Linked DNA regions of Homo sapiens. The protein of the gene in region 2 interacts with the protein of the main gene of each other region in a pairwise test. Each region holds a gene or a part of one and is shown on either strand. Other genes may lie near its edges.

Evidence for each region.
Region 1: the proteins of BMAL1 (region 2) and TRAPPC12 interact in binary tests that used the Homo sapiens proteins (3 or more experiments, as listed by UniProt).
Region 3: the proteins of BMAL1 (region 2) and NPAS2 interact in binary tests that used the Homo sapiens proteins (3 or more experiments, as listed by UniProt).
Region 4: the proteins of BMAL1 (region 2) and CRY1 interact in a two-hybrid assay, tested with the Homo sapiens proteins (3 studies listed by BioGRID, with this or other methods).

Annotation. Positions count from the first base shown.
Region 1 is NC_000002.12:3,473,568-3,480,284, reverse strand, and holds the end of TRAPPC12 (trafficking protein particle complex subunit 12), read right to left. Parts: intron 2,591-6,717; coding exon 2,490-2,590; intron 1,693-2,489; exon of another isoform or gene 1,440-1,692; coding exon 1,352-1,439; exon of another isoform or gene 1,067-1,351; coding exon 824-1,066; 3' UTR 720-823; downstream 1-719. UniProt on the Homo sapiens protein: Component of the TRAPP complex, which is involved in endoplasmic reticulum to Golgi apparatus trafficking at a very early stage.
Region 2 is NC_000011.10:13,371,701-13,379,045, reverse strand, and holds part of BMAL1 (basic helix-loop-helix ARNT-like protein 1), read right to left. Parts: intron 6,884-7,345; coding exon 6,637-6,883; intron 4,952-6,636; coding exon 4,845-4,951; intron 3,435-4,844; coding exon 3,284-3,434; intron 2,502-3,283; coding exon of another isoform or gene 2,407-2,501; coding exon 2,318-2,406; intron 725-2,317; coding exon of another isoform or gene 710-724; coding exon 601-709; intron 1-600. UniProt on the Homo sapiens protein: Transcriptional activator which forms a core component of the circadian clock.
Region 3 is NC_000002.12:100,815,324-100,823,138, reverse strand, and holds the start of NPAS2 (neuronal PAS domain-containing protein 2), read right to left. Parts: upstream 3,001-7,815; 5' UTR 2,725-3,000; intron 1,985-2,724; exon of another isoform or gene 1,940-1,984; intron 1-1,939. UniProt on the Homo sapiens protein: Transcriptional activator which forms a core component of the circadian clock.
Region 4 is NC_000012.12:106,999,452-107,006,796, forward strand, and holds part of CRY1 (cryptochrome-1), read right to left. Parts: intron 5,798-7,345; coding exon 5,655-5,797; intron 2,498-5,654; coding exon 2,313-2,497; intron 1,918-2,312; coding exon 1,829-1,917; intron 632-1,828; coding exon 491-631; intron 412-490; coding exon 100-411; intron 1-99.

The DNA.
Region 1 (6,717 bases), on a different chromosome or scaffold from region 2:
TTAGAGAACCCTTGGCAGAGTTCTTTCGTAAAGTGAAGACATTTTCAGGTACTTTAAGTTCTTCAAAAGCAGGAATAACTGTGTAAACGTAAGGGCAAAAGGCCTTTCAGGCATGAGAGAACACATGAAAACACGTGTCTGGCTTCAAAACCACCCCCAGCCCCTGCCTGCCTGCGTTTTACGCGCTCTTCCTGTGCTTCATTATGCGTCGTGCTTCCTGTTCCACTCAGCTCACTCTCCACGTGGACGTATAAACTATGGGAGAAACAGTGATGGCCTCTCCTCCACCGCCAGGCTGGCAGGGGTCGTTTGGCTGGCATCAGGCTGGAGGAGACTCGGATGGGTAAGACCAACGCACTTAGTTTTGGGTGTGTGGGGAGGGCAAGAGGAGCATGAGCGGCGATCTGTGGGGGGTGTCTTCCCTGTTGTAAATCTCCCTGTACGTGCAGGTGCACGGCGAGAGGGTCTCCACACCTCCCAGCTTTTCTCTGAGGATGTCCAGAAGGAACGAGCAAAGCAGGATTGGCCTCCAGAACAGAGGCCCCGAGGCTGACTCCAGATTTCCTGTCTACGAGCTGTGTCCTCCCAGCACGCCTGCCCCTTGCATTCATGAACAGTGACCCAGCTGCAGGGACTGCGTGGCTGAACGCCGACCAACTGCGGGGAAGTCCTGGGCTGGGCCGTGGCTTGGGACCAAGAAGACACGCAGCAGACACCAGTGAAGCAGGAGTTTTATTGAGTTCCTCCATGTCACATTAATACATTAGCTTCAAGACACAGTTTCAAAGACCCGGGTCCTTCTGACGTAGTGTGTTGGAGGCAGCTAGGCCAGCTTGAGGCACTGTGTGTTGAAGCTGTCCCCCTCCTTGCCGGCGACAGCCTCCAGCAGGGCCTGTTTCTTCTGCATGCTCCGTGAGGACTCCAGCTCGTACATGGTGGTCAGGTTGAAGAGCACGCTCTCGTGCAGGTAGTGCCTGGGGTCCTGCTGGACCATGGCCTCCAGCTGCCGCAGGGAGTCCTTGAGCTTGCCCAGGTAGAGCAGACACACGGCAGCGTTGTTGTTGGCCTAGGGAGGAGCACACGCCCAGGGTTGGCCCACACAACCAGGACAGACGCCCGCCCATTCCAGGCTGCGTGCTGGGCCGTGTTAGGGGCCTGGGGGTGGTGCAGAGCTGCTGGGCAGAGCCTAGGTGGCCCTGTTGGGTCACTTCCCCTAAGGGCCACAGCCACTGCCTGGAGCTGGTGGACTGGAGAGAGAGAGCGCAGGCCCCTGCTGAGACGTGTGTGGGTGTATGTTTCTAGCGTCTGTGAAAGGCAGAGGATGGAGGATCCTGCAGCTTGGGGATCTTACCACTGCGTTTCTTGGATCCATCCTTAAGATCTCTGTGAAGAACCTGTGGGCTTCTGCAAAGTTATTCTGCCCGAGGTGAAGGAACGCGCTGTAACACAAGCAACGGTGGCAGTTAGCGGGGAAAGCCCAGGAGCTGCTGTCCCCCAACACAACCCACAGGGGCTTTGGATCCCACAGAGACCCAGCGTATGGCCCTGTGTGGCCCGGGGTTCCTGATCTCCAGGTAGAGGCGGTGAGCTGCGTTTTGCATTCAGGCTCGCACATTAAAGCCACTCTAGTTTTTATTTATTTTTATTTTTTAGATGGAGTTTTGCTCTCGTTGCCCAGGCTGTAGTGCAGTGGCACGATCTCGGCTCACCGCAACCTCCGCCTCCTGGATTCAAGCAACTCTCCTGCCTCAGCCTCCCAAGTAGCTGGGATTACAGGCGACTGCCACCACGCCTGGCTAATTTTTTGTATTTTTAGTAGAGATGGGGTTTCACCATGTTGGCCAGGCTGGCCTCAAACTCCTGACCTCAAGTGATCTACGTGCCTCAGCTTCCCAAAGTGCTGAGATTACAGGCATGAGCCACTGCACCCGGCCAAGCCACTCTAGTTTTTGTTAATTGAGATAGAGTAACTTCACCTAAATGACTTCCTGCTAAAAGCGGACACCTGCTTTATTTACGCTTTCTGATCCTGGCTGCAGGCTTTGTCCAAGGCGTGTTTCCTCCTCACGAACGTGCACTCGCACGACGCTGTGCGTTCTACCACAGAACACCAGAGCACGGGATCCAGACACAGAACACCAGAGCACGGGATCCAGACACAGAACACCAGAGCACAGGATCCAGAACGGCCGCTACGCCAGCAATGGTGACCTTTACACACACATACGCTGAAAACGGGGGCAATACAAGCGCTTCTCTGAAGAACAAGGGGGAATAGCTCCTTAAAAATCAGCTTCTGTGACTAAAAGAACATCACTGCGATTCAAGAAAACACCTGTATACTCCTTGGGTCTCCGCTCTGAGAGACACAGGGCAAGAGGAGATACAGGGAGAAGCGCCTTCTCTAGGGAGCTTTCCAACTCAGTAAGTGGGGCTTGAACGCCTCTGGGAAATTTGAGAAAACATATATTTAGTTTTAAAATATTTACCTGTTCATCAAAACCATGATTTTACCCTGTAGTCCATCTAATTTCTGTGTTACTTTCTCAACGTCTTGAAAATACTTTTCAGCTGTTTTTATGTCTCCAATCTGCTTTGACAAAATTTAGTCAGTTTAGTTGACAAAAGAAATATTAAGTCTATACTCATATATTTAGTTCCCTAATATCATGTTAGAATATGAAGACATTTATATGTCAGGCAGAGGAAAACTTCAGTAACCATTTAATCATTTTTTAATAAAAAGGCAAAAGACATTTAAGATACAGTGGAATGTTAATGTTCTATATGTCAGAAACTAAGTTGCTAATATACACGCCTTATTTAAGAGTCTTATAGTTTAGTAATTTTTACCTTTTGGAATGAATTCTGGCAGAGCATTAGATAAAATAAAATGAATAACTAATAAGATGAAACATAAAATACTTAAAATATTGGTATAATATGAGCAGGTCCTACGTCAACTTATGAGTTACTTGTGGCTAGTAAAATGGTAGGTGCCACCACATTTGCAAATTGCAAAGTAATATTTTGACCAAATAATATAGAATTCAACTGTAAAAAACAAGCCAAACCAAACTCAAACCCACTCTTATCACGCATGTCAGGAAACCCACCGGCTGCCCGACTGAAATGCAGCCGGATGCAGCAGGCCTGTGGCAGAGGAGGCCTGGGGGGTGGAAGGCTGAGTGCCCCAGCCCTGACTCCTGAGGCCACAGCTTGGTTTTACAAAGGCAGACTTGGGTTTTCTTTCACCTCTAGAAGTGTAAGGAAGGGAATAAATGATCTAAGGCTTACAATAAGAAATAGATACAAATGAAAGAAAAGTCCTATTATGGCCCAAGCCGCGCTCACGAGGGTAAAGACAGAGTTGCTTTGTGTCCGGGGCACAGCCTGCGGGAGCCAGAATGTGACAGCGAGCTCTGTTATCATGGCAGCAGCAGAAACTTAACAGAATGCTGTCCTCTGTCTCGATGAGAAACAAGCTGAATGCGCGCGGCTCACCTCCATGAGGAGGGCTGGGGCACCCATCACTATCATACTGAGCAGCCTAGTTAACTCTTAGACTGTCCACGCCAAGCATCTGTCCAGCATTAAAACAAGCCTGCTAACTTCTCAGATGACTGGTGGGGAGATGGTTCTCCATGGGTGTCATGTTTCTGCATGTCTTCCAAGCACAGACAGTGACAAGGCTTTGTTCAAAGCATTTACACAAGGATGCCTGTTTAGAGGACAGCCTTGTAAGCTAAACTGCATCCCTCTGGGGCAAAGGGCAGGCAGGCTCGCCTCCCAGTAGCAAGGATTTGGGTGTTCTAAGTTCAGGATTCCTCTCCAGCCACACAGCCCACTGCAGGCCTCATGAGGCCCTCGGTGAAGACCCTGAGGAATCAGGGCCCCGTGGCTGGTGGGAAGAATGCCACTCTGGCTGTACTGCTGTTGCTGTGTAATAAATAGCCTTCCTCTCTAACGTAGGAATCTTACATTTTTTGCCAGCATCCATGAAAGTGGCAGCTAACTCCACAGCTTGGAAACAGGATAACATCTCAGGCCCTTCACAACTGTTGCTGTTATCCCACAAAAGAAATACCATACGAGGAGGAAGAAAAAACAGAATGAAACAAGAGAAAACACAGGCGTGCACACACACCACACACTGAATGGCATCTGTCCATCGCTGCCCGTCGTCTGCACAGTCCGAAGCCGTTTGAAGTCCACTACTATCGATTTCCCACTTGCGGACTAAAAAGAAACCGAAGGCAGCATGGGCTCCGTGACGCGGCCCTCAGCTCGAACGCCTGCATCTCCTGTCTAACAGGACCGTGTGAGACACTGAACTGAAGATGATTACAGCCCATCATCAAGACCGATCAAGATTAACGTGTGCCGGCGGCCGTGGCAAGCGCTTACAAGCACAGCTCGCCTGACCCTCGCGACAGCCTGGGATGCAGATGCTGTCGCTAGCTTCGCTTTCTAGATGAAGTCGTCGGGCTTGGAAAGATGAGACAATTTTCTGAGGTCACACAGCTAACACAGAACACTGTGGTCAACACCCAGGCTGTCCAACGCCCAGACCGTGTGCTGATCCTCCGCACTGCAAGGCCTCCTGAGGCTGGCATGGGACTTTACTCAATGTCTCAGAGGAAGATAACAGAGAAATCTTGGGATATTCTTTGCTACCCACTGACTTTCCTGATGATTAGAAAGTAACTTGACATTTTCAGAATTATTAAAATGTAATTAGGATACAAAATCCTACCGATTTCTAAAAGTTAGGAGCAACTGAAAAAATTAAACATAAAAATGCAATTAAAAGTATTCCAGAATATGTAGAAAACAAATCAGTAAAAGACACTATTAAAAAGGAAATACAGTGGCTGGGCATGGTGGCTCACACCTGTAATCTCAGCCCTTTGGGAGGCCGAGGTGGGAGGATCGCTGAATTTCAGGAGTTCAAGACCAGACCGGGCAACAAAGTGAGACCTTGTCTCCATTAAAAAAGAAAAGAAAATTAGCCAGGTGTGGCTGTAAGCACCAGGTGTGGCCGTAAGCACTGTGGTCCCCAGCTACATGAGAGGCTAAGGCAGGTGAATCTCTTGAGCCCAGGAGTTCTGCAGTGAATCATACCTGTGCCACTGCACTCCAGCCTGGCAGACAGAGCAAGATCCTGTCTCACAAAGAAAAAGACAAAAAACAGTGTATAAACTAATCCAGAAAAAGGAAGCATAAACAGAAATGTAAAAGTAGAAATAGCTACAGGCAGAACAAGGAAATGGAAATAATGGTAAGAGCACTGTCTTTTACTCTGTGCGAATCCACGAGAAAACAGGGACCAAACAGGTGGCTTTCTAGAAAACTCTCAGTTACCAAAATGGTTCCCAGAAACACAGAAAAATCCTCAGGCACACAACACTAAGGCAGATTCATAATAATAAATTAGGAAAAGCACACAGCACACCTCATGTGCTCAGCAAAGGCAATTCTTAGGTGAATACTCAAACCTTCAGGGAATAGATCATTCCACATTACTCAAGTTTTCCAGAGAGAGAGAAAGCAAGCTTCTAACTTATATGAAGACAGAAAACAGCCACCATATCCTTTTGAGATGTCACCTGTGCACACGCAAACCAGATACTAACATCACTTATAAACGCAGAAACCCGGGGAAACGCCGCCCTGGAGCTCCGACCTTAAGAGCAACACATGGTCAGTGTTTCCGTGGCAGAAACTGGAACTGTGCGCTGGGTCTGGCCCTCCCCTCCTTGGGCGCTGTCAAGGTTAATACTGAGTGTCAATTTAATTGAAGGATGCAAAGTATTGATCCTGGGTGTGTCTGTGAGGGTGTTGCCAAAGGAGATGAACACTTGAGTCAGTGGGCTGGGGGAGGCCGACCCGCCCTTAATCTGGGTAGGCACCATCTCTTCAGCTGCCATCACAGCCAGAATAAAGCAGGCAGAAGTTGGAAAGAGCAGACTTGCCGAGGTTCTGGGACTTGGACTGGCTTCCTTGCTCCTCAGCTATTGTGGGACCTCACCTTGTGATCGAGAGTCAATTCTCCTAATAAACTCCCCTTCATAGATTCATCTATTCTATGAGTCCTGTCCCTCTAGAGAGCCCCAACTAATACAGGCACTGAGGGGTGGGGGAGAGCTCCAGTTCTCAGCTCCTTCACCTGCTTCTCTGTCACAGTTTTGGGATTCCTCATCACCTTGGTGGCACGGAAGCCATTACAGATGGGCAATGGCCATTTTAAAGTGTTCTCAAGGCGGAGTGTCCTGCAGTCCATGGCTGTGAGCTGTTGACTGGAGAGGAAGGCAAGAATGATTCTTCTCTGTGGTGTGGGAGTCAGATGATTTTAAACCATCCAAAGACAGAACAGCTATGTTAACAGCCACATAGGTTGCTAGATGATATTAAATCTGTAGTCAGCTAGAAAACCCAGTTCTTTTCATATTTACCACTGATCAACTTTAGTCACAGAAGCATAGGTCTGCAATTGATACAGAAAACTCATTTCAGCTGGGCCCAGTGGCTCATGCCTGTAATCCCAGCACTTTGGGAGGCAGAGGCAGGAGGATTGCTTGAGGCCAGGAGTTTGAGACCAGCCTGGGCAACATGGCAAGACCCCCTCTCTACAAAAAACTTAGCTGGGCATGGTGGTGCATTCCTGTTCCCAGCTACTCGGGAGGCTGAGGCGGGAGGATTGCTTGAGCCCAGGAG
Region 2 (7,345 bases):
GTAGAGAGACAGGCCCAGGACTCAGACCCAGGTGGACTGCTTCTAAGCTCCTTCTCTTTCATATGGAAAGGAAGTCTCTCCCAAGACAGCTAGTAATAACTAGCTGATCTGCTTGGTTTCTAGTACTAATCCTGGGCAGCTCTTTGATTGAAAAAAAGTGAATGTTTTGTTAAGGTCCAGATCACTCTGATAGTTCACAGCTCTACTCCTGCATTCCTGTAAAGTAAAGGTACATCTATCCGCACTGAGAAGCTCCTTGAGCCATAAGAAAGTTAAGTCTTCTCAAGAATTCTCTTTAGCGCTGGGCTATTTTGGTTTAGCTTCTTTATTTAAGGCAGGATTTCTTAATCTAGGCACTACTAACATTTTGGATTGGATAATTCTTTGTTGGGTGGGGAGGAGGGAACTGTCCTGTTTACTGTAGGATGTTTAACAAGCAGCATCCCTGGTCTCTATCCACAGGATGTTTAAGTAGCAACCTCCCACCCAGTTGTGAAGACCAAAAATGTCTCCTGACATTGCAAAATATTGCCTGGGGGAAAAAATTTCCCTGGGTTGAGAACCACTGGTTTAACAGAGGAACTAGAAGGTGTTACTTGCCTGTGGATTTCCATGATTTCCTCAGCAATCATTCGGCCTATTTTTCCTGCCCCAGCCCGGGTTCCCCCTGGAATCCCTGGAACAGTGGGGTGGGTCCTCTTTGGGCCACCTACAACAAAGGAATCTGAGAGTAGGAAAGGGGAAAACTGAGGAAGAAATACTATTATGTATTAAAGTAAAACCAGTTTATCCCATGATCCATTTGCAGTTCAACATCAGAGTTGTGCCTTGAGGGACTTTAGGGCTACAGCTTGTCAGGAAAAGGCATTCCAGCAGGGAAAGGCTCAAGTTTCCTTCTAGGATCTGAGGCCAGTTTTTTCCCTTCATACAGCATCTAATTCTTTCCCTTCATGCACTGAAAAAAAACGTTTATTGAAGACCACTGTATGTGCCAGGGTTACAGAGACAAGTCCCTGCCCTCAAGGAGCTCACAGTTTAACAGGAAAACCAACAAGATGAACAATGGCTAAAGCAAAATGTTGTAAGTTTGACAGGCAAGCACGAGGCAACCAACTCATCTGGGGCCAGGTGCAGCTTCTGGAGCAAGTTAACCCCGAGCTGAGTCTTGAGAGATGAATATGAATTAGCTTGGCAGAGAGGTAAGGAGGAGAAAGCATTCCAGGCACAGCAACCAACACGTGCAGGAGCACTGAGGCAGGTTAAAACTTGGGAGACTCCTCCAAGGAATTCATCATAAATGATGATGAGAGCATGATAGATGAAACTGGGGCAGCAGGTACCAATCCGATCATGAGGGGCCTCTTGGATGCCGTACTAACGAATTTGGACAGTTTCCACAAGGGAATGAGGAGTACCAAAGGACGATACACAGAAAAGGCACAAATGAGAACTGGGTTATTAGAAAGTCCACGGCAGGGAGAATGAACTACAATGGAGGATGGGGTGGGGAGAGGGGGACTAGAGTTGCGAAGTGATTTGCAATAATCCAGGCAGCAGATGAGGAGGGTGAAATAGCAATAGTGGTGACGAAGTTTAAGAGATAGAAGGTTCAGGACTCCGTGTTTAGATATAATGGGGGAGAGACAACAGCCAGGTTTCTGGCTTAAACAACCAATCAGGTAGGGGAGTGCAGAAAATCAGCTTGGGATATTCTGAATTTCAGGTGCCTCTGAGACTCCAGGTGGTTCTGTCTATGAGGCATTTGGAGAGACAGATCTGGAGCTCGGGAGAGAGACTGGGCCAGGAGATGTGGATGTGGGAGTCATCGATGGGGGCTGCAGCCATGCATGTGGGGATGGTCCCAGGAAGGATGAGTCCAGCGTGGACAGCAGGGGCAGGGCCAAGGCTGAGCCTGAGAAGGGAGCCCAGTGGGTATGGTACACACCCTGGTGCCGAAAGACACCTGCCTGCCAACCACAGGAGTTAGTGACAGTCACGAAAGAGCACTTCACATCATGGCCACTAGCCAACACAGGAGGAAAGCACAAGGGGAGTAGGGAGTTTGCGAGCTCAAGGGCTTCCAGGGGCCAGCAGCTTTGGGAAGTGCAGCAGTGAGCTCCTAGTATTCCGGCTCAACAGAGAAAGTGACATGACAGTGTCCTCTGCATTCATGGGGAAATCCGCACATCATCCCCTCGAGGCCTCCCTTGTTCCACAGAATATGAATGGAGGGGACCCTGAATACTTTAGGGGAGGATATTTGACCACAAGCACCTTCCCACGGGCAAGCCCCAGGGCCCCAGCAGCACATAGTTACCTTCTCCAGAGGGCAGCATGCTGTCCATGCTGTGGGGGGATGCTGTGAGCTGTGGGAAGGTTGGGTCCCCGCCTTCCAGGACGTTGGCTCTGTGAACATCCCAGCAATAAGGAAACGTGAGTCAGGCCTGCTCAGAACTGTGCACCATTCAACTTGGCCAAGGTGTCCGGTGTCCACTCTGGACCTGGACAGGCCAGAAAATGAAGTGTCTGTCTGAGTGGGTAAACAGGTCTCACTGTTTGATAATATAATGGATAGCATCCTGGCCTTTGGCCCCACTGCCTGCCTAGGCCTTCCTAATATGTGTGGGACACAGTTCAGCAGAGGTGGTGGCTGCAGTAACCTACTGCCATCATTACAGCACCTCCTCCTGCCAGCCTGCAGTGCACCTAGCCCCGGCCCCTCACACAGCTCTTACCATAGGTGGGGTTTTGGACACTATGGGGAAGGAAAAGTGGGGAGCAGGCCTGGCCAAAGAGAGGCTCCTTCACCTCCCTCTGCTCATCTAGCAGGTAGCAGCCTTTTGAGATGGCATTCCAGCTGCCAGTGCTTGGGCCCCCTGCCTGACAGGTATGGAGACCTCCCCATCCTCAGCCAAGGCCAGTGTGAGCTAGTGCCTGAATGAGCCTTTCATAGATTGCCAACCCCTTCCTCCACAGCAGCACAAGTGGATGCCTAGGGTGCAGGGCCTGTGGAATTCAAAGGTTAGCTGCTTTATCTGGAAGGAAATGTTGCTATTTCCTGGAGCAGTTTCATAAGCCAGGGCCTGCATGGTACAAGTCCTGAAGCTTGTCCCTTTGTTAACAATCCTTTCTAGCTTCTGCCAGTCCTGAGGCTTCACAGGTATTAGCAAGATGGCATTAAAGGATGTGATACTGGATGTTGCCTGCACCCCATTTCCCAGATGAGGAACCCTAGGCATCTGTTTGAAGCAAGGGGAGCTTCAGATATAGGAAAAGTACTTACAAAACAACAGTGTTAGTTGAGACAATATATTCTACTTCCTTGGTCCAAGGGTTCATGAAACTGAACCATCGACTCCGTAGTGTGATAAAAGAACCATCTTTGATTTTAAATTTATAGCAATTAGTTGTAATTTTTTCTCTCGTCTGTAAAACTGAAAATGTAAAGAAAACATGGACATTGTTGTTTTCTCAGACCAAAGTATTAAACAGGACATCCAATACAAAATATTAAAGGTACTTGAGCTCCAACGACATCGCTCTTTAGTAAGCCAAGGAAACTGCAGTGGTCAACACTCAGGAAATAGGTTGTTTCTGAGGGTCTAACTCAGAGCCTTTCAATTCATTTGTGAAGCTGTCATGATTTTCCATAGTCTGTAAAATTGAGGCTCTAGGGAATTACTGACTGCATGTTATACATCTAACTGGAATCAGCTCTAACATGACCACCAGCAAATGAGAAGGCACTGTCCAAAATGTCATGCTTTATCTCAATCACAAAGCCCAAGGGCAATATAGAACTTATCTCATTTCTAAGAACATCCAAATCAACAGAGGCTACTCACCTATTCAACCTCATTCTTTCATGTAACATGTAATGAGCCCTTCTCATGTGCCAGGCACTGGAGATACAAGAGGAGACAGGCTATGACTCCTGCCCTCAAGAAGAGTAGTGAGGGAAGGCTATACAGGGAGAAGAGATCAGAGCCTTGAGGGATGAACACGAGTTTGCCAAGAGAAGGAGGGAGGGAAGAACCCAGCAGTGCCTGAGGAGCAGCAGGGTCTGGTTGGGGAGAGGCCAGTGAGGTCAGTGTGCCTGGAGCACAGGCCTCTGCAGGCAGGGATGGGGACTGAAACTGAGGAGGTGGGCTGGGGCCAGAAGGTGGAAGGTCTCACATTTGATTGCCTGTCAAAAGCATTTGGGCTTGAGTCTAAAGCAGGAGGTTTTTAAGCAGGCTGATGTTACCAGGCTCAATCTATCTGGGGATAAATAGGATAACTATGGAAGATGAACTGGGGGTGAGAGGGATCAGAGAAACCCTGAGAAGTCTATCACAGGTCTCTAAGTAGGCACGAGGGCCTGAACCAGGGTGATGGCAGAGGTGGTAAAAAGTAGACTTTTGGAAATGCATGTCTGAGGTGAATGAACAGGATCTGGTGGAGACACAGTGAAAGAAGGGGTCAATGTTGGTCTCTCTCAGGAGCCTGCACATGAAGCCACAGCATTAGTCAAGACAGAAAACACAGGAGGTAGTGCAGGCTTGAATGGAAAAGAGAATCAGATCAGTCTGGGCCATACTAAATCTTTACAGGGTCTGGGAAAACCCTCTGAACAAGAGATGTCTTTCAGAAACTGCCATGCAGTCAGCACAGGGCAACTACAAGGGGGATAAACAGTGCCTGCAGGTATCAGCTTCCTCTTCACACAGATGTTCTGACCTGAAGAGTCCTAGGCTGGCTGACTCTACATCCTCAGTGGACAGATTTCCCTGGAAGGTCATGTTGACTAGTCTAGAAGCAAGGGGACACTTTCAACTTAAGATCTTTCATACATCCTAGCTTACCTTGCCTATGACATTCTGCAAGATGTCCTATGTCATCTTGGTGAAAATATTCATAACACGATGTGCCTAGAAGTTCTTGTGGTAAATATGCCAAAATAGCTGTTGCCCTAAAAGGGAATAAAGGAATATTTAAAGAAGAAAAAGCCATTCAGATGATTAATTGCAACTTTGCAATGGATAAACCCTGCTACAGCCTATGAGAGCAAGGTCAAAGCTGCAGGCAAAAGAGCTGGATGGATTTTCAGAGGGCTCACTGTGTGGATCTTTCTCTCTTTTTTTCAGGCATCTGAATTTAATCAAGGCTATAAAAATAGAGGGAAACAGAGCAAAGCCTTTGTAAAGGGACTATTATCACAAGAAATCAAATCTGAGGGGGCTTTAAAAATTGCAACCAGTCGGGCATGGTGGTTCATGCCTGTCATCCCAGCACTTTGGGAGGCCGAGTTGGGCAGATTGTCTGAGCTCAGGAATTCAAGATTAGCTTGGGCAACATGGTGAAACCCTGTCTTTACCAAAAACACAGAACAATGAGCTGGGTATGGTGGCACATGCCTATGGTCACAGCTACCTGGGAGGCTGAGGTGGGAGGACTGCTTGAGCCCGGGAGGTCAAGGCTACAGTAAGCCAAGATCTCGCCACTGCACTAGATCTAGCCTGGGTGACAGACTGAGATCTGTCTTTAAAAAAGGAACCACATTAATTAGATTAAAATGTGGTATAAATCTAAACCTCAGTGCAAGGCTTCTAGTTTTTGCTGCCTCCTTTTTATCAGGACAACCAAATGCCAGAAGCTGCAGCAGCTGAGGCCACAAGACAGCTGAGGCTGTCTCTTTTTCCAGCATGTTGTGGCTGTCTCTAGTAGCCAGAAAAATTATTAGCCTGTGCATATTCTGAGGGAAAGCAGTAGGCAGCAGTAAATTTGGGACACCTGGGTCCTTGGTCCAGGTCTATTACCAATTAATTGTGAATCCTACAGGAGACCAGTCCCCAGGCTGGCCTCTGTTCTTCATCCATAAAATAAGGAGGTTGGATTAGATCAACGCTGTCCAACAAGACTTTCTGTGATGATGGAAATGTTCTATGTCTGTGCCGTTAGCCACATGGGAGGCTACCATGGCCAACGAGTATTTTATTGGACAGCTCAGGACTAAATAATTGCTTCCAAGTCCTAGATTCAAAAGAATTTCAATCACAATAATGGTTCTGGAACATTCCATAGATTCAGACAGCATGCTATCCCTACTGTTTTTCTTTTAGCCATGGACATCAAGGCACCCCACTTAATTGTCTCTATATGCCAAAGAATGACAGAAAAATCTCTGTATTTATGATGATATCCTATTGAATCTCATTTTTTAACAGAGACTCTCATCATTTGTCTCTTTTTTTTTGAAACAGGGTCTCACTCTGTTGCCCAGGCGGAAGTGCAGTGGTGCAATCACAGCTCACTGCAGCCTTGACCTCCCGAGGCTCAGCTGATCCTCCTGCTTCAGCCTCCAGAGTAGATGGGACTACAGGTATGTGTCACCATGCCTGGCTAATTTTTGTATTTTTAGTTGAGACAGGGTTTTGCCACGTTGCCCAGGCTAGTCTCAAACTCCTGGGCTCAAGTGATCCACCCACCTTGGCCTCAAAAAGTGCTGGGATTTGAGGTGTGAGCCACTGCACCCAGCTTTTTCTTTCTTTCTTCATTCTTAGAAAAGCCAGCTGATGGCCCAGTCTTCTCTGCTTTTTAGATCAGGGTTGAAAATCCTCTACCATCATTGCTCAAGGGTAGTATGTAGACTCTTACCTCTGGTCTACAAAAACAAACTTTCCATCTATCGCGTGCCGAGAAACATATTCCATAGATTTCACCCTGATTTCCCCGTTCACTGGTTGTGGAACTACATGAGAATGCAGTCGTCCAATTGCGACGAGGCAGCTGAGGTTACACCCCTCATTGTCTGGTTCGTTGTCTTCATCCAGCCCCATCTTTGTGGGTGGCCAGCTTTTCAAATAGCCTGTGCTGTGGATTGTGCAGAAGCTTTTTCGATCTGCTAGAAAGCAAAGTTCGTGGTTAGTGTCAGCACTAGGTTTGGGCCATGGAGGTGTACACGGCCGATGGTGGGATGGGATGTAGGTAGGGAGTCAAAAAATAAAAAAAAATCAAGGCTTCACTCTCCAGAAGTAAGCATCTAATGAAAGGGGCAGACGGAAAGAGAAACAAACTGTCATCCAGTGTCAGAATGCTTAAGTAGGGCCAGTTATACCATGGACATTCATTACATACACCAAGGAAGGAATATCTAACTCTTCCTAGGGAGAGGAAGGCTCCCCCAAAAAACCAGTAGAGGAGGTGGATCAAGAAGGATGAGCAGTGGCTGAGGGACTAGAATGTATAAAGGCTGATGACGTACACAGGCACAGAGGCACAGCCTATATAGGAACTGGCCAAGAGCTCTGTGTGGTTGAAGTGAAATTGGAGGTACTGGGAGTGAGGGGCAAATTGGAAAGGCAGG
Region 3 (7,815 bases), on a different chromosome or scaffold from region 2:
TTCTCACCTTTGGATAGTGACCACCAACAATTCAGCTCATTTCCCACACCTATTTACTGAGCATCTATTCTGAACAAGGCCCCATCGAGATGAGATGCTGTGGGGAATATGAAATGTGACAGTCCCTGACCTCCCATCTTTGCTACAAATAGAACGAGGATCAGGAACATGCTAATCAGACACTTCTGTAAGCAAATAATGCACCAAGTACCCTATCCACTATTTAAATGTGAAACTCAATTAGATGCTTGCTATGATGCAGCCAATTAAACCGTTGGCATAAAGCAGCCAAGAATACTGAGTCACTGGGCTATTTTCAACACCTCGAAATCTGACCTCTCTTGGGAAAGAGTTGCACCGTGCATGGAATCAGCATGGGACAGTGTCGTGATCACACTGGGAGAACCGACGATTCATGTAAAGAACAAAACACATGCTTGTTTTAAAAATTAAGAAAGAAGACTTAGCCCTTTGGGTTCTTAAGATTCAAAAGCAAGACTCTGAAAAAATGAACATATAAAGATGGTTAAATTAAAAAGTATACGCATGCCTTATTATTTTATTCTGAAAAAATTAACTTTCAGTTTTTAATCTAATAAGTTGCAGTGTTGAGTGAGCTATAAAGATTACCAAGAGTTAAGAAAGATTGTTCAAAAAAATAGGGTGAATTCAACTTAAACATGGCACACATCAGGTTATATGTGTTATCTTTAACGATTTTCATCATTTGCATTATTAAACAGCCAGAAATTTTTTTAAAGGGCCCAAACTGTTTTAAGAGAACCAAATGAGCTTAAAAACAATTGTTGTTTTCTACATAAAGATCAATTCTTTAGTCATCATCTGAACACTCTCTCATCAGACCACTAATTAGTAAAGCCTCACTTGGTTATTTTTGGCGTGGTTAACTCTTTGGGGGTAACGTTTTATTAATAACATATTTCCTCTAGAACGTATTTCCTTCTTTCACCTCCACAGGAGCCCCTCTGGGAAGCAGTGAGAATAAAACCGATTCTACATTTACGCACAGTGGGACAGATCAGCAAATAAATAGAGGCATCGATTTCCAAGAAGAAAACGGCTAAAAGCAGCGCATTTACAATTCTTCTAAGCCATACTCCACATCTCTCTGTGAGATGGAAGATAATTACTGAACGTCTTTACTTTGCACACTTTATTTTTAACTAAATATTTAAGTAGACTGCTGAGAGATACCAATACTTCTACTGGTCCTGGTTTAGCGCTGTAATGAAACACTGAATTTTTGCTTTTATAAAATAGTGGCGCAGGTCAGGATAACTCTTTTAAACATTACACTATTTATTTGGGGGTTATTTTTGGCTAACTTTTTCCTTTAAGGACATCTTAGTGGCAGGAAGATGGAGCTAGTGTGTGCGCTTGAATGTGAACAGTGCCTCCCAAGGAGGGCAGCTCTGTGTTTAATGCAAGCCATAATTAGTTGGTCAATTCACTGATGGGGACCAAGCTACAGTGAGAGAGAGATGCTGGCAGAGATGTCTTGCTGGGAACTACTTTAGAACTAATTACCTGGGAAGTTCAAACAGGAAAAACCTTTCTATTAAGGAAAATAAGGTTTGGGTTCTAAATGATCAAGACGGTTTAGCTCGTCTCTGCTGATTAAGTTAATTTAATAAGTGATCAATGTTTTACCTGTAGGAAAACAGGCTAACCACTTTAATGAAGTTGGGGTGGATGCCAAAGCAACGCGTAAAGACGAAACTCCTCTCCGGGACCCTCCTGAACACCTGTTGAACTCCAGGGCTTCTAACTTTCCGTACTAAAGCCTCCCGGACACAAGCTCGGGAGTGTTTAGACTTTGTGGAAGTGCGTGCGTATATTCAAGGTTTCCATCTTGCTTAATCAACAAAACTAGTTACTAATTATTTATGAATCACAGGGCTGAAACAAACTTTCTTACCTTGAGCAATTAAGGAGTGGCAAGCAGAGGAGCGGGACTGGTTCTGAATTTAGCCGGGTGGTGCCTGTCCCTTCCCTGGTTACCGACCTGCCCAGCTCTTCAGAAAGGTCAAAGGTGCGTCCCTCCTCGGCTGGGAAAGGGGCACATCTCCCAACAAAACCATACGCATACATCCAACCTGGGGAGCTCCGGAGTTGGGGTGGGGGGGCGGCAGCGACGTGAGGAGCCAGGCTGCACGCTGTCTGCGCACACGGGGGTTGGGGGCACCGATTCCGCACCCAATCCGGCCCGGAACCAATTCCGACCCAGGGACTCCGAGAGACCGCGGGCCCAGGGCGCGCACGCCGCACTCTCCGGGGGTCCAGGACGCCCGACGTTTCGGAGGGTAGCGCGATGGGTCTCGAAGACAACCACGGGCAATCCCCAAAGCTGTTGCCCTGGGGCACGATCCTTCTCCACCCTGTCGGACACCCCGAGGACCCCCAAATTCCGAGGCTCGGATGCCCAGTCCTCTGTCTTCTGCGTCGAGACGCGCCCGGAGCCCACCGGCCCAGCGATTGCTACCTCCTGCAGGACGCGAAGCCCCCAGCGGCCTGACTGTGGAGGGGAACCCACCTCTCCGCGCCCCCGCGTCCGGGGTCCCCGGTGCCGCGCAGCCTCGCGCCTGAGCGCCCCTCCGCCCCCGCGCGTCCTCCACGCTGGCGAGCAGGTGACCGAGTCCTGCGACCCCGCGCGCACGTACTACCCACCCTGGGTCCCCCGCGCCCCTAGGCGCGGCCCCTTACCTCGGAGCGGGCCGGAGCGGCCCCGCGGGGCCGGGCGCGGACTGGGCCGGGGAGACGCGCCTCCCGCCGCCGCTGGGAGACGAGGCGGCGAGCGGGCGCGGCGAGCTCCTCCCGGGCGGCGGCGGGAGGCGCTGCTCTAGCTGCTGCCGCCGCCGCCGCCGCCGCCGCGGCTGCGGGTCTCCGGGCTCCGCGGCCGCCGCTCCTGGGCCGCAGCCGCGCGGGTCCCTCGGCTCCTGCGAGAGGCCGGCTGCTCGCGCGGCAAACTCTTCCGCACGCAGAGCCGGCGGGGAGAGCCGCCTCCGCCTCTGCCTCCTCCCCTGCCTCCTCCCTCCACCCTCCTCCCTCTCCACCTCCCCCTCCTACCCCCACCCTCCTCCTCCTCCCCTCGCCTGCCTCCGCCTGCGGGGTCTCTCCTGGCCCCGACCCAGCCTGGGACAAGCACCCCGCGCGCGCCGCAGGCAGACGGACCCCCGGCCCCCTAGACCCCCGGCTTCCCTGGGCGGCGCAGACACCCGCGAGTCCCCAGGCCGCCGCAGCCTCTGCTGGGCTGCCAGGGACGCGCGGCGGGGTCGGGCCTGGGGCGCAGGGTCGGGGTTGGGCGCCGGGGCTGGGGGAGGGGGGGGTTGTGCTTCCAGGTGAGCCGGCCCAGAGGAGAGGCAAGTGGACTAGAGGCTGCCAGCCGAGGTCCCATTAAAGTTGTCACTCGGGGGGAACAAGGAATCTGCCGCCCCCGCCTAGTGTAGACCCTCGCAGTGCGGGCCGCCACCCTGCTGTCCCGCGCAGGGGATGAAGGGGGACGAGCACGCGACTGTCACCCCCTCCACACTGTCCTCCAGGGGCAGGGTTGCGCGCAGGTCTCGACCCAGGGCACAAAGCGCGTCTCTGCGGGGACCACTGCGATTTCTCAATGAGCGGCGGGGGTGCGGCCCGGGGGCAGGTGGGAGGCGGGGGTCGGGGAAGATGCGGGCGAGCGGTGGTCGGCGGAGGACAGCAGCGACTGCTGGGGAGGAATAACCAGTGCCTGTCCTAAGGCGAACGTAGCTGGTCCGGAAAATGGGTCAAGGATGGAAAGGAACCGGCTAATTGCCCCCCTCCCCGGCAGGGGCACGTGGGGTGTGGGGCTGCGGCCAGGAGCGGGCACTTGGAGCTCCACTCTGCCTCTCCCTCCCCTCCTCCGCTGCCCTCCTCTCCTTTTGCACCAGTGCAGGAAATGTTCCACTGACCTACATATTTTTCCAAACATACGTGACCTTTTTTTTTTTTTCCTCTGTGGGAGGAGACAGGCGAGAATCCAAGAAAAAGAAGCTGGAGAGAGAGGCGCGCGCGAGAAACAGGGAGGATTTTACCAAGGTTCCCGCAAACGCCAAGCGGAGGGAGGCAGAGGTACAGGAATAATCCCCGGGTGCCGGGGCTGCTGTCTGATGCCCTTCGGGGCTCCAAGACAGAGCCGGTGAAAACCGGAGACCGTGTGCCCCGCCGAGGTCCGGAAACGTGGCCGGTTTCCCCTTCACCTGGGCGGCGGCGTTCACAGCGGGGAGGCGCCTGGGTGGAAGCCCGGGAGAGGGGAAAGGTCCCCCTGCCCGCTCCCACGAGGTCTCCGCTCCCCTGGCCTAGGTGCCTGGCCTGGCGCAGCGCTCCGAGCGTGGCAGCCTTTTCCGGACGTCTCTCCGTCCCTCTTACATTCCGGCAAGTGGCCCTGGAAGGAAAGCGCCCCCGCTGGCCCTTTTCTGTCATACTCGATTTTGTGGCCAGAAGGGGTCTCCTAGGGCCTTTGCCCCAAGCGCGCCAGGCCCCCGCGGTGGACTGGGGGTCGCCCCGGACGCTGTTCCTCTCGCTGTCTCGTCCTCTCCCTCGAGTTTGAGACGTGCCCTCTCCCTCGCAGATCCGACCAGCAGCGCCTTATTTGGGCATGCAACCCCACACCGTCAATTAGATCAAAACGCTCACACAGAGCTCCTTTTTACCCCCCCTGTAAAGTAGGTCATTCTCTTTATTTCCCACTTGTATTATTTGTGTCTAATTCTCCTCCTGAAAAATAATCAGCTGCAAGGAGCTTTGAGCATCCTAAGAGCAGCTGTTATTCTCAGGCTTGCTTCTGACTTGGAGGGCTTTTCAAGAAAGAGGAGGAGGCATTTGGCCTGTCATGATTTTGAAGTCCCTCCCTTTCCAAAAGAAGAAACTTTTGTTTGATGGATTTTATTTTGCTTTGTTTTTCTACCCCGTCCTTTTCCTCCAGGCAAGTAGGTTTCACCCCGCCTTTAGAGCGTGGCCATGACTAATATTACTAAAGGATGAAATTGTGTACTTCTAACCGGTTTTAAAGCATTATTTAAAGTCACCTCCCTTCCTTTTTTGCTTTGGAAGAGATTCCAACTCCCTTTTCCTACTCCCTTTTGGGAACTTGTTGAACAATCATTAAATTTTCTTTTAGGAAACCTGGAATGTCCTGTAGTAGTAACTCATCAAATAATTCTGCAGTACAAAAAGTGTTTTTGCTGTGGTCTCTTTTTCTCTGTTGTCCAGTAGATGCCCCTACTAAATGTGGTTTCTGCCTTTTTAGTCCTGGAGATGACGTGTATGTGGTTGTCGTATTTATTCCAAACTCCATCCCGTGTCCTAATGTTAATCTCACCCAGATGGGAAGGATACCTCTAAGATAGGCCACATATCCTATCTGACCATAAGGCAGAGTGGATTCTGCATCACAGAAGCCAGTTAGACTAGGCCCTTTCCCCCACATGCGGAAGAGAGCTACGGAGGAGAGTTGACCCCATGTTCATTCTATGCATTTGACGGTTGAGTTCCTTTTACTGACATCTGTTGAAGGCTTGCCATGAGTCAGGCTGGGCTTGGCCTGTGAGGGATCAAGGGAACATTAAGGCAGTTTCTATACACAAAGGGTTTACTATGTTGAGGCAGGCATAAACACCAGCCAAATAGGGCTAGGGTCAGAAAAGCCCTCCAAGCCAAAAGCAGATGTCCCATGGGTGCCGAGGAAGGACTCAGGATGAGCTTCTTGGAAGAGGTGACATTGGTGCTTGGATTTTTCGTTAACCAAATAACAAAGCCAAGCTACAATAGATCATCTATGCATTGTTCAAAATGTGCAGCATGGAGCAAAAGAGCCATTTCAAAACTGCATTGCCAGTTTTGGGACATTCTCACTGAGTTCCAGTCATTGGGCCTTTAAAAGAACATGGCTTTACTGATTGAATGTTGCCTTGATGTATTCAGGAACTCCAGATATTTTTCAAAGAATCCAAATGTATGGAAGGGAGGATAAAAAAATTTTTGCAGTCAATTTTATCAGTCTTTAGAGGTATCGGTGAAATAATTCAAAGTTCTCACAGTCAAATTGGATATTCTTTTCCATCATAGAAGTTGAATCTGTGGCATATCCTCATTTTAAATATGCACACATTAAATTTTCAAAATATGTATTGGGTGACTATGGGTGTTCATTCGTGGTATTACACAAGGGCAAGAATGTGTGGGCTGCTATACGAATTACAGCACTAGCCCAGGGCTTGGGACTCTTGTTGGATGTATACATTCAATGACTTCAGCATAAGCTTTGGAACAGACAATAAGAACAGGGTTCCATGCCAGATGTTAGCACAGTTTTTCTAGTTAATCACAAGGTGGGAAGGCCCTCTTTCTTCATGTGAATGTCCAGAAGCCCATTTGTGGATTCTTACCTCTGATTATCAGTTTTCACTTCAAAACTCAAAAGAAAAAACACAATACCACGCATCATTGGATAGAATAACATTATGCTAGAGAAGAAAATTGTAGCAACCAAGGCAAAGGGAAGTTGGGTCAGTATAAACGTGAAGAAGAGGCTTTAGAACCCAATAATTGGAGACTGACTCAGAGGCCAGGGCTTATGAAGAGTACCTTTGAAAGCAAGACTGAGGAACGCCTATCATGTGTTTCAAATATCAAGATTAGGCCGTGACAGTGGCTCATGTCTAATCCCCAGCACTTTGGGAGGCTGAGGTGGGCAAATTGCTTGAGCTCAGAAGTTCGAGACCAGCCTGGGCAACATGGTGAAACTCCGTCTCTCAAAAAAAAAAAAAAATTAATTAATTAATTAAAAAAAGAAACAATATCAAGGTTAGCACCTTGATGTGCTGTTTCTGCATAAGCTTCATAGAATAGAAGAGCGCAGGAGGCAGCAGGCTCTCGCCCTCCCGCCTGGGCCAGAGGATGCTACCAGGAGACAATCAAGGCCTTGTACAGCCTGCCTGGTAGGGTTAAGACTTAACTTGGTTTTTGTGCCTATTAGATCATGTGGTTGGCAAACTAAAGAATGAAGTAAGATTTCCTTACAAAGACCGTGTGGAGGAGCCAGGGAGGAAAACAGGGCTGGAGGAGTCTGGAGGTGACAAAGCCCTAAAGCCTTAGCACAAACATATACACAAATCTGAAAAAGAGGTGAGATTATTGCCAATACCGGCACTTGAGAATAATATTTCCTTATGCTTAAGCCCCGCTGAGGAAGTTCTTTCATGTACATTTTCTCTAACAATAAAGTGTGATTTTAGATCCTATCTACTTCTAAGAGGATTTTCATAAATAGACATTATTGTTTTGAGCAGCTTTTGACTCTAAATAACTGAGAGGAAATACAGAAAGGTCCCATACACCCCCCCTCCCATGTACAGCCTCCCCCACTATCAGCATCCCCTCCCTCAGTGCTAGGTTTGTTGTATACATTGACACATCATAATCACCTAGAGTCCATAGTTGACATGAGGGTTCACTCTTGGTGTGTTTGGTCAAATGTGTAATGACACAAATCCACCATTAAGGTATAATAGTATAATACAGAATAGCTCCACTGCCCTAAAAATCCTCTATTCTGTGCCTATTCATCCCTTCCTCCCCCCAACTACTGGCAGCCACTGATCTTTTTATTGTCTCCATAGTTTTACCTTCTCTGGAATGTCATAGAGTTGGAATCATATGGTGCGTACCTTTTCAAATTGGCTCCTTTCAGTTAGTAGTATGCATTTAAGGTTCCTTCATGTCTTTTGTGGCTTGATAGCACTTTTTTTTAAAAGCATTGAATACTATTCCATCATCTGG
Region 4 (7,345 bases), on a different chromosome or scaffold from region 2:
ACCATAAATGAATCTATAAACAGACAACTTCTAGGATTTGTTTTATTAAGGTAAGGATTCCTTCAAAATAAGGCATGCTATATCAGTTAGAACACTTACCTTCATTCCTTCTTCCCAACTAATCCACAGGTCCCCTCGTGTCAGGAAGCAAGCAACTGCATGCCTGGCTAGATGATGAATCCAACCCTCCTGACGAAGCTGTGTCATGATGGCATCAATCCATGGAAAGCCTGTCCGGCCTTCCGCCCATTTGGCTAAAGCCTCAGGATTTTTATCCCAAGGAATCTGAACACAGATAGGGTTTCCTTCCATTTTATCAAAGCGTGGATTATTTGTTGCTGCTGTATAGAAAAATTCACGCCATAACAGTTGCCCATAAAGGGAAAGGGGAGGGGAACTGTTCTTCTTTACCTATGGTTAAAAAGCAAAGAAGTATTATCAGAATTTTTTTTTAAAGTATTAAACAATAAGCTCTAATTTTAGAGAATACCTTTTTGTAGAGATCTGTTAGTTTGAAGTAAAACAGTCGACATGACAAACAACCAAATCGGAGATAAGGACTAAGTCCAGTAGGGCTTGCAAGCAGAGAATTCGCATTCATTCGAGGTCTTTCAAAATTTGCCACCCAAGCCTGAAAACACACAGAGAAAATTATATTAACTAATTGTCTTTTTCATTTTAAAAGAACACTCAGAATGGAGATTTTTTTTTTTAAAGTTACATAGTTCTTGGGGAATAAAATCTTATCCTAGCCACAAATTACATGTTTTAATAAAAAATAAGACAGGATAAAAAAGTGAGCATTCTTTTGTTTCAGTCGTCCTTGTGCAGCACATACTCATGTGAAATAAATTTCCTTCAAATTTCCAACAGAAAGCTGAGAGCACCTTCAATCTCTCTCTCTTTTTTTTTTTTCCTGAGACAGGGTCTCGCTCTGTCACCCAGGCTGGAGTGCAGTGGCTCAATCTCGGCTCACTGCAACCTCCAGCTCCCGGGTGGAGGATTCTCTTGCCTCAGCCTCCTGAGTAGCTGCGACTACAGGCATGCGCCACCACGCCCGGCTAATTTTTGTATTTTTAGTAGGGATGGGATTTCACCATGTTGGCCAGGCTGGTCTCAAACTCCTGACCCCAAATGATCTGCCCACCTCAGCCTCCCAAAGTGTTGGGATTACAGGTATGAGCCACCAGGCCTGGAAAATTTATTTATTTATTTTGAGATGGAGTCTCACTCCATCACCCAGGCTGGAGTACAGTGGTACGATCTTGGCTTACTGCGACTTCTGCCTCCTGGGTTCAAACAATTCTCATGCCTCAGCATCCCAAGTAGCTGGAATTAAAGGCACACACCACCACCCTGGCTAACTTTTGTATTTTTAGTAAAGATGGGGGTTTTGCCATGTTGGCCAGGCTGGTCTTGAACTCCTGACCTCAAGTGATCCACCTGCGTCAGCCTCCCAAAGTGCTGGGATTACAGGCGTAAGCCACCATGCCTGGCTTTCAACCTCTCTTTAACACAAAGGTAAAGGTGAAATATAATTCTATTCTAGTTTCGAAATTGTGGCCACTAGATACTAGCTTAGGTAGAAAGAACAGAAGAGGTAGTGCGGTAGTAGCTAAAGGGGAAATAATTAGAAGAGAAGGAGAAAGAGCATTTAAATGAGGAGATGGTAGTTAACTTTCAAACAATTAGGTTTGTGCTATTTTAACCATTTCTGTTAATCCTCCCCTTTCAACAATCTATTTGTTATTTTTAAAAGAGAGAAAAATTATTTTTTAAATGGCAGTTTGGAAATACAAGCATAGCTATATAATCTACATTATCATACTTTTCTTTCCAAATGCCTTTCCAAACGAGTAAGTGCTTCAGTTTCTCCACCTGGCCACACTGCAGAGGATAAGCCATCTGTATCAAAACCTACAAGAAAGAAAAGAAAAAAACATCATTCTTCCGAAACTAATTTTTATTTAACCCCAATAACTGGGAGAACAAATTACTTTGCAGAAAAATTAAGAGAGTACCATAAAAATGAACTGAAGGCCTAAATAAGCCCTCACCTATAGAGGATATGACATGGTTTCAATTTTTCAGGATGTACATCTTAAGGTGGTAACAATAGATCACATATTTATAAAACACATAAATGATGAACAAACATATCACTTCTTAAAGGGTTCTTTTTCTTCTCCCCCTGCCCTTTCTTTCTCTCCTAATGCAAAATACTTTACATGGCAAAATTAAAAGGGGAATTTTCTGAGTAATTTATGATTTATTAACTTGCAAGCCTCACACTGACTACAGTTTACACTCACCTAGCTCTTCCAGTGAAGGGACTCCATATTTCTCATCATGGTCATCAGACAGAGGAGTTGTGCACTTTTCTATCACTTCTGAAGTAATTGTCTCTACTGGTATCTCTAGTGGTTCCATTTTGCTGATGAGAGTCTGGAATCTTTTATAAGTTAGAGGCGGTTGTCCACCATTGAGTTCTATGATCCTATAACAAGAGTTAGTAAAATGTAGTTAGTATTAAAAAAGACAATACATTTTGGCTAATAAGCTCCCAAAAGGCTTAAAAAGCAGAAAATAAAATTAATCACTGAAGTCTTTGAGGGTGTTAGCTTGTTATAATGACCAAGAAATGTGTCCAAAATGATTAATGAGTCCAAAAATCATTCTCCTGAGCTTCTAGACATCCTCTGGGTATCAAATATACTACACAAATATACTACACAAATATTAAACCTTTAAGACAAAGAATATTAAAAACTTATGAGAGGAAAAAACAAGTAAGAGGGGAAATTAGTCTAAAGGCAATTACAAAAAGTTAATACACACAGACATATGAAAAACATGTTATGGCCCAGCTCAAAGAATCTCAATCATCAATAAAAACTAAACCAGGTTGATAATTATATGAAAGAGTAATCAGCAGGTCTCATTTAGGAAAAATAAATTTTATTGTATATATTTGAGTTTACAACACATTATGGGATACATGTAGATAGTAAAATGGTTACTATAGTGAAGCAGATTAACATATTTATAATCTCAGTTACTTTTTTGTATGTGTGTGACAAAAGCAGCTAAAATCTACTTATTTGATTAAAATTCCAAATAAAATACAATTTTATTAACTAAAATCCTTACTCTGTACACTAGACCTCTAGTGTTGTTCATCTTACATAACTTCTACTTTGTATCCTTGGACCTACATTCCTGATATGGTTTGGCTGTGCCCCCACCAAAATCTCATCTTGAGTTGTAACTCCCACAATTCCCACATCATGGGAGGGACCCTGTGGGAGGTAACTGAATCATGGGGGCAGGTCTTTCCCGTGCTGTTCTCATGATAGTGAGTAAGTCTCACAAGATCTGATGGTTTTTAAAAGGGGGAGTTACCCTGCACAAGATCCCTCCTTGCCTGCTGTCATCCATGTAAGACATGACTTGCTCCTCCTTGCCTTCCACCATGATTGTGAGGCCTTCTGAGCCGTGTGGAATTGTAAGTCCATTAAATCTTTCTTTTGTAAATTGCCCAGTCTCGGGTATGTCTTTATCAGCATCGTGAAAACAGACTAAAACAATTACCCTATTTCCTTCAGCAAATTTTATAAATTTTGATTCTATATTACTGTGGTGACAATTACTTCCTATTTTCTATTGTGCTAATGAAGGCATGAGAGATGTCAGCATATGTATCTATGTCACATACTTAGAACACATAAGCCCCCAAATTTCAAGTTATTTAAATTTAAGTATCTTTTTACTTCTGATCATTAATTAACTCAATCAATTATTAATTAAAAAAATAACTAGCTTTGCCAATGGTAGTTAAAGATTAAGTTTAGACACTCTTTTGGAATAACTACTCTTTTTCACTATGGCCATTTGCTTAGCATTTGGCCTTAATAAAAAATGACAGGTGAAATCCAACTCCATCATTTTATAGATGTGAAAACAGGCCTACCAGGAGAGTTAAGTAAACTAGTCAAGGTCATATAACTGATAAACGGCAAATCAAGGTTTTCTTAGTGTATTTTAGTGTATTTTTCATTATACAATACGTAGTGATGTATCAACTACAGATACATACAGAAAGTAATACAGAAAGCAATCACCATAAAAGATATCCTGTTTAAGTAAATTTTGTTTTGGTGTATTTTGAATTTATTCATAGGGTTGCAATGAATTTTGCTGAATGTAATGATGCTACAATAATACTACTGAGGACATTGTTAATTACACAACAGTAGCAAAATGAGAATCTTAGGACAAAACATTTTCTATATGTTACATTTTAATATGATAGATTACATATAGTAAATATTCACATTCAATCCAATAAACACTTGATTTTTTTTTTTTTTTTTGAGACAGAGTCTTGCTCTATTGCCCAGGCTGGAATGCAGTGGTGCTATCTTGGCTCACTGCAACGTCTGCCTCCCGGGTTCAAGTGATTCTCCTCCCTCAGCCTCCCAAGTAGCTGGATTACAGGCACCCGCCACTATGCCTGGCTAATTTTTGTATTTTTAGTAGAGATGAGGGTTTCACCATTTTGGCCAGGCTGGTCTTGAACTCCTGACCTCGTGATCCATCTGCCTCGGCCTCCCAAAGTGCTGGGATTACAGGTGTGAGCCATCGCGCCTAGCCTAAACAATTTTATGCATAACACTGAGTCTCCCACTTAGAAGCAACTGCTTTTATCCTGTGTTGCCCCCTCCTTGCTATGAGCTCCTTAAAGTTAAGCAAATTGGTGAGCTCGAAGGCAAGATTATTATTAAAAGATATATGAATTCTAGCTTAGTATCAAGACCTTTGTCTGAATCAAATCATGATTTTTTGATACATTTAAAATGTGAAATCAAATCAACTAGTTTGTCATGTTACAGAATTTGTTTTACTAACTTGATAAAATACATAAATTACTAAAAAAGTAAAATGATTTAAAAGGTAAATAAATTATAAGATTTCAGTACTTAAAAGGACAATGGTATGCCAAAAGTTTTAAAAAGTTAAGTTTTACAGACCTCTAAGACTCATAGCATATAACACTCCCTAAATTTAAGTTTGACCACAGAATTTCTGTGGGACAAAGCATCACCAAGGACTGGTGCTGGAAGAAATACACTTTGGGAAATATTCTATTATGCCATTGTTCAGAGGACTACAGCTATGCAATGTTATATTACATCCAATTTGCATCTGGATTTAAAATCCAGACAGACATAATAGATATACATGAAATAAGATAACATTAAACAAGCATACAAAATATGTCAAGGCAATTTATAACTATATATAACTATAAAATTGATAATGCTAAGAGCCCAGAAAGGCAAGACCACAGGAGGCTGAGTTAAGAGTAGTCAAGGAAAATTCTGTAATAGTCTTAATCCATAATAGTTTTGAAACTGAAATGCTGATACCTGTCATTGGGTCAATAGCAGCTAAATAAAATGCTAAGGATTTGACATATGTTCACTTAATTCTCCCATAACTCTGTGAAGTACATGTTATTTCTACTTTATAAACCTCAGTTAAAAACTTATCTATGTAGTTAATACCACCGAACTATATACTTAAAAATGGTTAAGATGGTAAATATTATGTTATACGCATTTTCCCACAGTAAAAAAAAAAAAAGGACTCACTTGTCTAGGTCATATAATGTATGTGAAATTCTTACAATGACTTCTACTCCAGCTTCAGTTGCCAGTTTCTTAATAGCTGCGTCTCGTTCCTTTCCAAAGGGCTCAGAATCATACTCAATTGAAAGTTTAGTAATGTTCCATTCCTAAAGTAAGAGAAAGGGGAACAATGTACACCAATTGTAATAGTTATTTTTTCTATTATAACGAAAAGTGAAAAAGCTGAAAATCTACATATCAAAGGATTATACATAAATCAAACTTTGAATATGCAGGAAAAAGTAAACAATTTATCAATTAAAAAATACATAAGTAATGAATGCATAACCCATTAGATTCTAGGCATTATGCTAGGCAACAATCTAGCAAAGCAATATGCTTAAAACCAGCTCTTATACTAAATGTGTTTGTAGAGCACTTTACTTTTTCAAATTACTCATACTTACATTATTTCATTTGAGCCTCAAAACAACACTCAGAGTTTGGCACTTTGGTTAGTATTTCCATTTTGGAGATAAGTTTATTTTTAAAACTTAGGGACCTGCCAGAGTTCACAGAAAGCCAGACCACCTGAATTTATGTCTGTTGAGTCTAAGAACTGGTCTTTAACTAACCTTTGATATTGATATGGTATAAGCTGCCTGGCTGAGGTCGTGTGTGTGTGTGTATGTAAATATTTTCTTTCTGATTACTAAAAAACGTTAACTGAAAAATTTGGAGATGGTAATAATAATAGCAGTTACTTATTATCAGGAGCTATGTTAATAAGTTCTGTACATCTCCTTATACTGATTTTAAATGAGGAAACTGTGACTTAAAGGAATTGATTTTTCTTAAGGAGAAAGTTTTTTTTTTATTCTAAGTCTATTCTGATTTATCTCATAAAGAAAAAATTCTACCATTATTTAACTGCCTATATGGTAACATACTATAATTCACCAAACACCTCCAGATTAGACAAGGGCTATTCCAATGGTGGGTTTAAAAAAATTGCTATTCTAGGCGGCGTGCGGTGGCTCATGCCTGTAATCCTAGCACTCTGGGAGGCTGGGGTGGGTGGATCACCTGAGGTCAGGAGTTCAAGACCAGCCTGGCCAGCATGGTGAAACCCCGTCTCTACTAAAAATAAAATCATTAGCTGGGTATGGTGGCACATGCTTGTAATTCCAGCTACTCGGGAGGCTGAGGAAGTAGAATCACTTGAACCCGGGAGGTGGAGGTTGCAGTGTGCCACTGCACTCCAGACTGAGCGACAGGAGCGAGGCTCCATCTCAAAAAAAAAAAATTGCTATTATAAACTTTACAGTATATATCTTTACCTTTATGCACACATCTTACAAATTATAGGGTATTTATCCAATTTTTTCCTAGAAATAATCCCTTGAAAAACAACTGATGGATCAAAGATAAGCACATTCAAAATTCTGATAGGCTGTCAAATTATGTACCAGAAAGACTGTACAAATTTATATTCCCATCAGCAGTGCACCTAAGGCTTGATCTCCACACACTTGCCAATAATATGTATTAGTAATCTTTTTTTTTTTTTTTTTTAGATGACATCTCACTTTGTCACCCAGGCTGAAGTGCAGTGGCTGAAGTGCAGTGGCATGATCTTGGCTCACTGCAACCTCCACCTCCCAGGTTCAAGCGATTCTCCTGCCTCAGCCTCCCGAGTAGCTGGGATTAAAGGC